2 separate regions of the Homo sapiens genome follow, and region 2 is linked to region 1. The links come from fine-mapping of genetic effects on gene expression. Tissue or cell type: ileum. Region 1 holds a variant in brackets; the other region holds the start of a gene. All regions are shown on one strand. Distances are between the middles of the regions.

Region 1 (5,202 bases):
TTTTTTTTAAGTAAAAGCAAATAGAATGAAAGTTGGATTGTTTTTCTTTTGCTGTGTTGTTTATTTGTAAATTTTTTTTTTTTTTTTTTTTTTAAGATAGAGTCTCACTCTTCACCCAGGCTAGAGTGCAGTGGCACGATCTTGGCTCACTGCAACCTCCACCTCCCAGGTTCAAGCGATTCTCCTGCCTCAGCCTCCCGAGTAGCTGGGATTACAGGCACCTGCCACCACGCCCAGCTAATTTTGTATTTTTAGTAGAGACAGGGTTTGACCCTGTTGGCCAGGCTAGTCTTGAACTCCTGACCTCAAGTGATCCGCCCGCCTTGGCCTCCCTAAGTGCTGGGATTACACGCATGAGCCACCATGCCTGGCTTATTTGTGCAATTAATAAACATTTCTGTTGCTTGGAGCAGGGAGGCAGTCAGCACCAGAAAAGGAGTGTTGCAGAGAAAAGTCTAGTCCTTTTGGTCCTGTAGTGACATGTAATTATGCCTTATTATACCTGGTAGGGAAGTTTTAGCTTGTGAAAAGTAGGTAAGTCATTATTAAGAAGCCAATGCATGACAAAATGTACCTCATGATTTTTCTTAATTACAGATATTTGTGTCATTTTAGAATGCACATGTTTGAGGAGGGAAAGGAGGCCTTTGAATTCACCTTGAAACGTGATTGCCTGGAGCTGAGAGGTGATTGGGTGTCAGCGATATTTTCTTGATTATCTTGGGGGCTGTTGGTTCTGGCCTCCTCCTGGCTCCCTTCCAGTCCAGCTGCTATCTCTCCACTCCCTGGGATGGGGCTCCATACCAAATGCTGCTTGGAGGCCCGAGGTACTGTCCTGGCCTTCAGGGAACCTGAGCTTTGGGTAGGTTATGCTGAAGAGCCTGTAGGCCATATGCACAGTTGGCTTATTTAGAAACTGTAGACATTTGTCTGTGTGAAGATTATCTGCTGTCAACACTGCTTTTGAGGCCATTATCACGTTCAGCTAGAAGACTTGCTTCTCTCCAAGAGTTTGAGCAGGTTGGGCACAGTGATTTACACCTGTAATCCCAGTGCTTTGGGAGGCTGAGGTAGGAGGATCACTTGAGACCAGGAGTTCGAGACCAGCCTGGGCAACACGGTGAAACTCAGCTCTACAAAAAATAAAAAAAAATCAGCCAGGCGTGGTGGTACATGCCTGTAGTCCCAGCTGCAGGGGAGGCTGAGGCAGGAGGATTGCTTGAGCCAAGGCTACCATGAGGTAGGGTCACATCATTGCATTCTAGCCTGGGCAATAGAGTGACACCCTGTGTCATAAAGAAAAGAGTCTGGGTGCCAGGAAAGACCTGTCCATTGGTCTAGAGTGATTTTGCTGCCTCTACATGTCTTACATGCCTCTACATGCCTCTACATGTCTTAACCTTGGTGTGAACTCCTCTAGCCTCTACAGACTAATGGATAGTATGTATCTTAGTCCATTCAGACGGCTATAACAAAATATCATAAACTGGATGGCTTCTGAGCATCAGAAATTTATTTCTCACAGTTCTAGAGGCTGGGAAGTCCAAGATCAAGACACTGCCAGATTTGATGTCTGGTAAGGGCCTGCTTCCTGGTTCACAGGATGGTACCTGTCACTGTGTGCTTTTGTGGTGGAAGGGGTCTAACTCTTTGGCGTCTCTTTTATAAGGGTGCTATTCCCAACCATGAAGAATGCCCTCATGACCTAATTACTTCCTAAAGGCACCATCTCCTAGTACCATTACCTTGGGGGTTAGGATTTCAACATAGGAATTTTTAGAGGGATGTAAACATTCAATTAATAATATTTTGCCCCTGCCCCCTGAAAATTAATGGCCTCCTTACATGCAAAATACACTCATTCCATCCTAATAGCCCCAATAGTATTAACTTGTTCCAGCACCAACTCAAGTGTCTGAAATCCAAAGTCTCATTTAAATATCATCTAAGTCAGATGTGTGTGATACTCAAGGTATGATTCATCCTTATGCAAATTCCCCTTCAGCTGTGAGCCTGTGAAATCAAGCTCTGTACACCCAAATCCAATGGTGAGACGGGCATAGGATGGACACTCCAATTCCAAAAGGTAGAAATTGGAAAGAAGAAAGGAGTAAAAGCTCCTGAGGAAGTCCAAAACCTTAAGGCTCAGGAATCATCATGTTTGGCTCATTACTCTGCCCTCCAGGCCCACTAGGGTGGAGGTTTCACCTCTCAGACACACTGGGGTGCCTCTGGACACATGGTGGTGGGGAGGGGGTTATGCCTCCTGCAGATCACCCAGGCCAGAATCTTGAGCTGGTGGCTCTACTGGTCTGGGGTCATGAGACAGTGCCACCCTCATGGCTCTGCTGGGCCCTGCCTCTGTGCAGTTCTTTGTCTGGGCCCCATGGCTCTCTAGGCATTGTTAGAAATCTAGGTGGAGGCAGCCACACCCCCTCACAGCTTTTCTGGTTGCAGTGCCAACTACACTGCACTGGGGCCCACAGGAGCCACCCTTGGGGCAGCCAAGGAGTGTGGTGACGGGGAGTGGGGAGCAGAGCCCACAATGTGAGGCAGGACTGGGCAGTGACAGCCCCTCCTTTGCATCTGCAATTGCTTTGTCCCCCAGGCCTTTGCACTCTGGCCTGTGATGATGGTGGCAGCAGAGAGGGTCAAAATATTCACAGTATTATAATGTTACATTACTTTTTCTCTGACTGAAAAGAACCAATTTTAATTGTAAAAC[A/G]TAACTAAAATCTCACCATCCAAAGATTACCACTGTTGACATTTGGTGTATATCTTTCCAGCCTTTCATTATTTTATGCACATTGAACACAAATAGTTTTCATGACTGAATTCTCTTTGTGATCACTCTTCCATTGTCTTGGACAGGAGGTCCTGGCTTCTGTTTAAACAGCTGACTAACCTTATCAGGTGGTTGGTTGGCCACATTCTTGATGTTCTCTCCTGAACAGGCTTTCTCATTCTTGATAGTATGGAAAGGCTGAGAGTTTTCCAAATCTTTAAGTTCTGCTTCCCTTTTGATTAACAATTTTGTCTTTAAATCACTTTTCTCCTCTGCTGTTTTACTATAAACAGTCAAGAGGAGCCAAGTTGCACCTTCAACACTTTGCTTAGAAATGGCTTTAGCTAAATATCCAATTTCATTACTCACAAATTCTGCCTTCCACAAAACACTAGGATACGAACACAATTCAGCCAAGTTCTTTGCTGGTTCATAACAGGATTGCTTTTCATTCAGTTTTCAATACCATGTTTCTCTTGTCTAAGAAATCATCAGATTGGCCTTTACCATGCACATTTCCACCAACATTCTGTTCACTACTGCTCAGCTATTCTTTAAGAATATTGAGGCTTTCTCTGCAGCTCTTCTCCTTTCCTTCTGAGCCCTTGCCAAAATTTCCCTTAAAGATCCATTTACAGCAATGTATACTGCTTAAAGCATGCACCTCCAAACTCTTCCAGCTTCTATCCATTACCCCTTCCACACTACTTGCATATTTTTGGGTATTTTGTTACAGCAGCACTCCCACTCTTGGTACTGATTTTCTGCCGTAGTCCATTTGAGCTGCTGTAACAAAATACTATAAACTGGTTGGCTTATAAGCCACATAAATGTATTGCTCACAGTTCTGGAGTCTGGGAATTCCATGATCAGTGAGTTGGCAGATTCAGTGTCTGGTGAGGGCCCGCTTCCTTGTTCATAGATTGGCACCTTCTCACTGTCTTCACACGGTAGAAGGAACTAGCTAACTCTCTGAGGTTTCCTTGATGACAGCACTAATCCTAATCATGAAGGGTCTGCTCTCATGACCTAATCACTTCTCAAAGGCCCCACCTCCTAGTACCGTCTCTTTGGGGGTTAGGATTTCAACATATGAATTTTAGTGGGGCACAAACATGCAGACCATAGCAGTGTGTTTGTAATCATGTCTTCTTTTGCTAGTGGTTATTAGGTCAAAATGAACTTGCTTTGGAGAGCTGGAAAAGGGTTGAAAATGAACCAAGAAGAACTCAGTACATAGCTACAAAAAAAATCTAAGAGTGAAGGGGGAAGGAAAGGAGAAATAAAAATTAGTCTAGCATAAAACATGGAGAAGAATACTCACTCATAGAGGATGCTGGGCTTCCTGGCAGAAGTTCTGATGCCAGGCATTTGGAGAAGCAGGATGAAGAAACAGAGGGGTCTTGAGTACATTTGCCTCTCTAACAGAGAGGGCCCAAATATTCACAACATTGTAAGATCACATTACTTTTTCTCTGATTTAAAAAAGAACCAATTTGGCTGGGTGTGATGGCTCACACCTGTAATCCTAGCGCTTTGGGAGGCCGAGGTGGGCGGATCACTGGAGGTCAGGAGTTTGAGACTAGCCTGGCCAATGTGGAGAAACCCCGTCTCTACTACAAATACAAAAAATAGCCAGGTGTGGTGGTACATGCCTGTAATTCCAGCTACTTGGGAGGCTAAGGCACAGAAATAGCTTGAACCCAGGGAGGCAGAGGTTGGGGTGAGCTGAGATTGTGCCACTGCACTCCAGCCTGGGTGACAGAGTGAAACTCTGTCTTAAAAAAAAAATCTTTTTAATTGTCAAAAATAACTAAACTCTCACCATCCAAAGATGACCACTTTTGACATTTGGTGTATATCTTTCCAGCTTTGGATTATTTTATGCACATTGAATAAAAGTAGTTTTCATGACCATACAATATTGAGGTACACACATGCATTTAACCAACACCCTAGTGTTGGACATTTGGGTTATTTCCTTTTAACTTCTCGTTTATTAAAACAAACGTGAATGATCTGGCAGGTAGGTGTTTCTGCACTGAGGATTTAGTGATTGACTGGCTTGTAACAGATCTGCTGCCATAGACTTCGTAGGGTCTCTCAGAGCATGCATGCTTGAGGTAAGGATTCAAATGAAAACCATCCTCAGTTTATGCCCAGAAAGGGGTCTGCCTGGGGTCACTAGTGCATCTGTAATTGCAGTTAGGTCTGATCAATACAAGTCTGCAAATATCCAAGGATACCCAATCTTGCTTCTTGGAGAACTCAAATTCTGCTTCCTGTGAACACTAACCAGATGAATTCTCCAAAGCAATTACTGTTGTTTCTTAACAGTGCAGATTGGTATGGCTGCATAAAATATCTTCCTGAAGTGACCTGAGGGAAACAAAAGGCAAAAGGGAAATTCCTGTTGT
Region 2 (5,130 bases), 740 kb before region 1:
AAAAAAAATTTCTAGTGCGGTAGTCTTAAAACTACAAATAGTTTTGTCATATCTCCTATGATGACTCCCTCCCTTCAGCTGCCTGGAGCCCCAGGGGTGGGCAGTGACTTTGTGTAGGCAGCAAGCAGCCGGTAACAAAATAATAATTATTATTGTTATTATTATATTATAATAATTGTAACAATAACAATTATTATTGAAGCTCATTTACAACTAACCATCCAAAAGACCTCTTTCCCCTGTGTCTTCAATCCCCAAGGCAGAGGGGTAGGGACAGTTCTATCCCTCCTCTGCACTTAACCCTTGAAACACATGCACCCCTTTGTGACTTTACCCTCTGCAGATGGCTCTGAATGTCTTAATGTCTGAGAGAAAGGGATTTAGAAAGCAAAATATAAAAATTTTAAACTAGTCCTTCCTACCTTCCTAGAAGTGGCAAGAGTTAAATGTTGAGATAGACTCAAGGGTAGGATGACTATTTCAGTTTGCCTGGAAGTGTTTCAGTTTGCCTGGAAGTATCTCAGTTTTAGTGCTCAGTTTTAGCAGGAGTCCTGCATTTCAGAGAACCCCTCAACCCTGAGCAAAATAAGATGGTTGGTCACCCTATGGCTTGGTTTGACCATCATCGCTATAACCTGTATCTTACCTGCATGCATGACACAACACAGTGCTTTACTTCCCTAAAAATGACATCAGCCCCACTAAAATATATGTTTAGTTTCCAAGCCCTACCTAGTCACCTTCTACCCTAGGAGCCAGGTTCTCTTTTCCCACCCAGACAGAGGAGCTGCACTCAGAAATTCCTAGACATGAGTTAACACTGGATTCCTTAGCCTTCTACTCCCATCATCTCCTGCTCAGCCCCAGCTACCACCTAAACTAGGAAGATCAAGTCTACCAGTGACCTCCGTCCATGGCACTTGCTGCCCCTCCTCTGTCCAGCTCTTACCAATATAGCTGCTGGAACCTGGAGGTCAAAGTCAAATTATCAAAAAAAGGAACTGAGCTGGTGATGTGCACTAACACAGCAAATCACAGGAAAGGGGAACCCCAGGTAAATTACAGCCTTCTGACCTAGGAAGACGTGTGGTTTGCGTCTCTGAGTTACAGAAACACAGGAAATGCTTACTGGACCAGTCAATTTCAGAATTTTGGGTCCCAAGCTAGGCTGACTCACCTTCAGAATGGAAACCACGTGACAGCCCTTATATCAGGGCACACATCACATGCTCTTCCAGAAGTCAATGGGTTTGGAACCCTCACAGATATTGGGAAAGCTCACTAATCATTTCTGCCAGTTATCAGAGGTTGCTCTGAAACTATAAGGAAGATTCAAAGAAAATGCCAAGACTGATATTAAACTTGGCAGGAACCCTTGTTACAGAATTTTCCTGCCTGACAAGGTTAAAAGAACAATAAGCAGGAAACACAGTCCTCCAGGAATAATCAATTCTATTTGGCCCCTGGTCACCTTCACTCAGACTAAATTCTAAAACATAGAATTTCAAATAAGCTATTTAGATAACCTTGACCATTCTCCACACACAAGCCCTTGCCTGAACTATTAATAGTCAAGGCAAAGGGTAGTTGTTATTGCTGCCTTTTTAAACTGAATCATCTGAGAAATTGCTTCAGACCCCCAAAGAAAGATTACTGTTAACAATTCAAAAACTAAAATATTTGATCCCTGAGACAGCCTTTTCCCCCGACCCGCCCTTCAGGGCTCAGTCCGACCGACTGCAAAGGCTGTTGCAAGATTGCATCACTGACCTTTGCAATTTTCTGGCCAGTTTGATTTCCCCTTCTTTCCCCTGCCCCCTCCCTTTCTCTGCTTAAAGGCCTTTGGCCAATTTGCCTCTCCTTTTCCCCAAGTTTGCTAACCCTTTGGCCAATTTGCCTCTCTTTTTCCCCAAGTTTGCTAACTCTAGCATATCCATAACCAAAGCCAAACTAGAACGCTCCCTCAGCCCCAGGTGATTACAGCTAACCCTGGTCAAAATCAATCCTACATCTTCACACGTCCAAGAGTACTCACACTCTGGATTCTTACCTAAGCTGTCTACTACACGCCCTTCTGCCCACAAACTGCTTCAAAGCTGAAGTTGAGCTGGAGCAGTGAAGTTGTACCCCCAAACCCAGGAGGGTGGCAGAGAATTATTGAGGAGAGCATGAAATACTTCCATTCTAAAATGGCAGATGAACTTCTACCAACAGCCCCTTCCATACTTGACCCCCTACCCCCAAGCTCCCAACTCCACTTCTCAAGTGGAAGTGAGAACAATTTGAATTTGAAGGCTCTTCCCTGATACACGGAAGTACATAAGGAAACAGCTCGCAGGCAAAGAGACTAATCTCTCTCTCTTTCTCTCTCTCTCTCTCTCTCTCTCTCTCTCTCACACACACACACACACACACACACACACCTCTGTGCATAAAAGCACCATCAATGAATAGTTTTCTATCAACTGACTCTAGTTATACATGCATGTACCTCTAAATAAAACCAACCAGGCAGGAAAGAAACAATATTAGCACATATTGCTTTATCCAAGCGTAACCTGTTCTGTCCTGTTACCCAGATCCTTCCCCCTTGCCTTCTCCTCTCTGATCCATTGCCACACACGTGGGAAGGTGACAACCCTTCCGAATAAAAATGAAAGCTTTCTTCTTTAGATGGAACCCCCAAATTCCCTCATTATTTATAATGTCAGGCTGTCCTGGACAAGGGAAGCTGTGCACCCGCTGACACCAGTAAGAAGGTTGCCGCCATGTCAGAGATGTCCGCGGACACCTCCCTGGGCTCCGGGTCCTCCCCTGCGCTCGCCTGGAGTGGGACCTTCGCGTGCACACTGGCCTTCCCACGCGCCCCGCTGCGATGGCACCCGCGCCGGGCCCCCTAGCTCACACAGTCGGAGCGTGCTCAGCGCGTGGCCACCTCCTGCCAGGTCCCAGCCGGGTTCCACCCCCTCCTTTTCCCCTCCTCTTCTTCCTCCCCCTCCGAGTTCCCCTGGCTCTGACCGCGCTGGCCTGGGCCGGAGAGCCCAGGAGGCGTGTCTCAGAGAAAAGATATAAGCGGCCCCCGGACGCTAAAGCGGTGCCAGCGGCGGAGTCTCCAACTGGGAGAGCTGCAGCTGCCGAGAGGAGGAGAACGCTGAGGTCGGTCGGACCAACGGACGCGCTGACCGCTGCCAACTGCAGCTCGCGCTGCCTCCTGCTCGCGCCGTGCCACTAAGGTAGTCCGCCTTTCTATGAGCCCTCCCCAAGATTAGCTGGGTGCGGGGTGGTGGGAGCCGTTCTTTGGTGGCTGAAGCCCCTCTCCTGCTGCTCCTCCTGCAGGTCATTCCCGCCTCCGAGAGCCCAGAGCCGAGATGGAAACGGTCCAGGAGCTGATCCCCCTGGCCAAGGAGATGATGGCCCAGAAGCGCAAGGGGAAGATGGTGAAGCTGTACGTGCTGGGCAGCGTGCTGGCCCTCTTCGGCGTGGTGCTCGGCCTGATGGAGACTGTGTGCAGCCCCTTCACGGCCGCCAGACGTCTGCGGGACCAGGAGGCAGCCGTGGCGGAGCTGCAGGCCGCCCTGGAGCGACAGGCTCTCCAGAAGCAAGCCCTGCAGGAGAAAGGCAAGCAGCAGGACACGGTCCTCGGCGGCCGGGCCCTGTCCAACCGGCAGCACGCCTCCTAGGAACTGTGGGAGACCAGCGGAGTGGGAGGGAGACGCAGTAGACAGAGACAGACCGAGAGAGGAATGGAGAGACAGAGGGGGCGCGCGCACAGGAGCCTGACTCCGCTGGGAGAGTGCAGGAGCACGTGCTGTTTTTTATTTGGACTTAACTTCAGAGAAACCGCTGACATCTAGAACTGACCTACCACAAGCATCCACCAAAGGAGTTTGGGATTGAGTTTTGCTGCTGTGCAGCACTGCATTGTCATGACATTTCCAACACTGTGTGAATTATCTAAATGCGTCTACCATTTTGCACTAGGGAGGAAGGATAAATGCTTTTTATGTTATTATTATTAATTATTACAATGACCACCATTTTGCATTTTGAAATAAAAAAACTTTTTATACCATATCTCATGTAATTCCTGAGAGGTGTGGTGTCCTGGGGTGGGAAGCAGGGAGGGTGAGCAGGTGGGCGATGGTGATGGGTTCTTACCTGAGCACTGCAGAGGGAGCAGCTTCCTGAGGGTCAGACACTTGCTTCACACCTAGGAACTGTGTAATAAGTTACTACATGCATATAAGTCTGTTGAGGACTTGTTTTTCCTTCTTGTTAGGGGTGGGAAGAGAGAAAATTTTATAACTTCCGTGAGATTTAGCATTTTAACATCAAAAGGTAGATCAACTTCTGAGCTACAGTGAGTAGGAGATAACTGATTAATTCTAAGGCAGAAAAGCTCTTTGTTCCTTACACCTGTGCACCAGAGGTTCCCATGGCTGATACCTTTTTCTTCCCAACTATATTTTAGACAGACAGACAGAGAGAAGGAAAGAAAATGAAGGAGGGAGGTCTGGAGGTGAAGGGAAGGAAAGAAAGGAAAAACTATCTACCTGGCAGGAAAAGAGATAAGCTCCCAAGAACACCAAAGCAGATGATGAGTCTAGCTCTACCCAGCCTTCCTCCCCACGAATCCAGATCATAGTAAGAAACTCTGGGCTAGAAAGAGAAAAAAACCGGTTGTTACATATCTGAGTCCTCCTCCTCCAGTGTACAGAGCTTCATCTGTAGTAATAGCTAATTCAGTGACTCTATAGGGCTCAGCAAAACAAATTTTAAACTTTAAAGAAGTAGCCAGGAGCCAGAGGCATGGCCTTGATGCTAGTCTCCTCACATTTTTCATGTCACCTGTCCTAATCAGGTACTGACACTTTACTCCTTTCATCAACAGCTATGCATTTTTGCCAAACATATCACTGGCTCACACCATTGCCTCTGCTCAGACTCTCTCCTTCGTCCAATGCCCTACACACATCTCCATTTCATTTCTGCCAACTCAATTCCTACCAAGTGTTCCTGGCCCTGATCAAAAGCCATCTCTTTCTGAAATCTATTCTTATCACTCCCAAAGGAAAAAAGCAATCAGAATGTGGTAAGATTAATCAAGGAAAAGAAACATATTTGGAGTTT

Alleles and levels. Positions count from the first base shown, and alleles are read on the strand shown. Sizes are in standard deviations (SD) of each study's normalised expression.
In carriers of allele A in region 1, the expression in ileum of the gene that starts at base 3,096 in region 2 tends to be higher than with G alone (small effect, 0.38 SD a copy in GTEx).

What was found. PIP is the estimated chance that this variant, and not a neighbour inherited with it, causes the effect.
Region 2: it holds the start of G0S2, and the variant in region 1 is fine-mapped to the expression of G0S2 in ileum (GTEx, PIP above 0.99).

What each region holds. Positions count from the first base shown.
Region 1 is chr1:210,410,453-210,415,654 of GRCh38, forward strand. All of the region lies in intron 6 of HHAT (hedgehog acyltransferase), which reads left to right. Among named protein-coding and RNA genes, the nearest start is that of HHAT, 84 kb to the left of the region's middle. The variant A/G (reference allele first, on the strand shown) is at 2,726.
Region 2 is chr1:209,672,317-209,677,446 of GRCh38, forward strand. G0S2 (G0/G1 switch 2) reads left to right here and starts at 3,096. Exons shown (of 2, transcript NM_015714.4): 1 at 3,096-3,233; 2 at 3,337-4,074. The coding sequence starts at 3,369. The coding sequence ends at 3,680. The region is part of intron 1 of HSD11B1-AS1 (HSD11B1 antisense RNA 1); the gene reads right to left. RefSeq lists enhancers at 688-927, 3,208-4,056.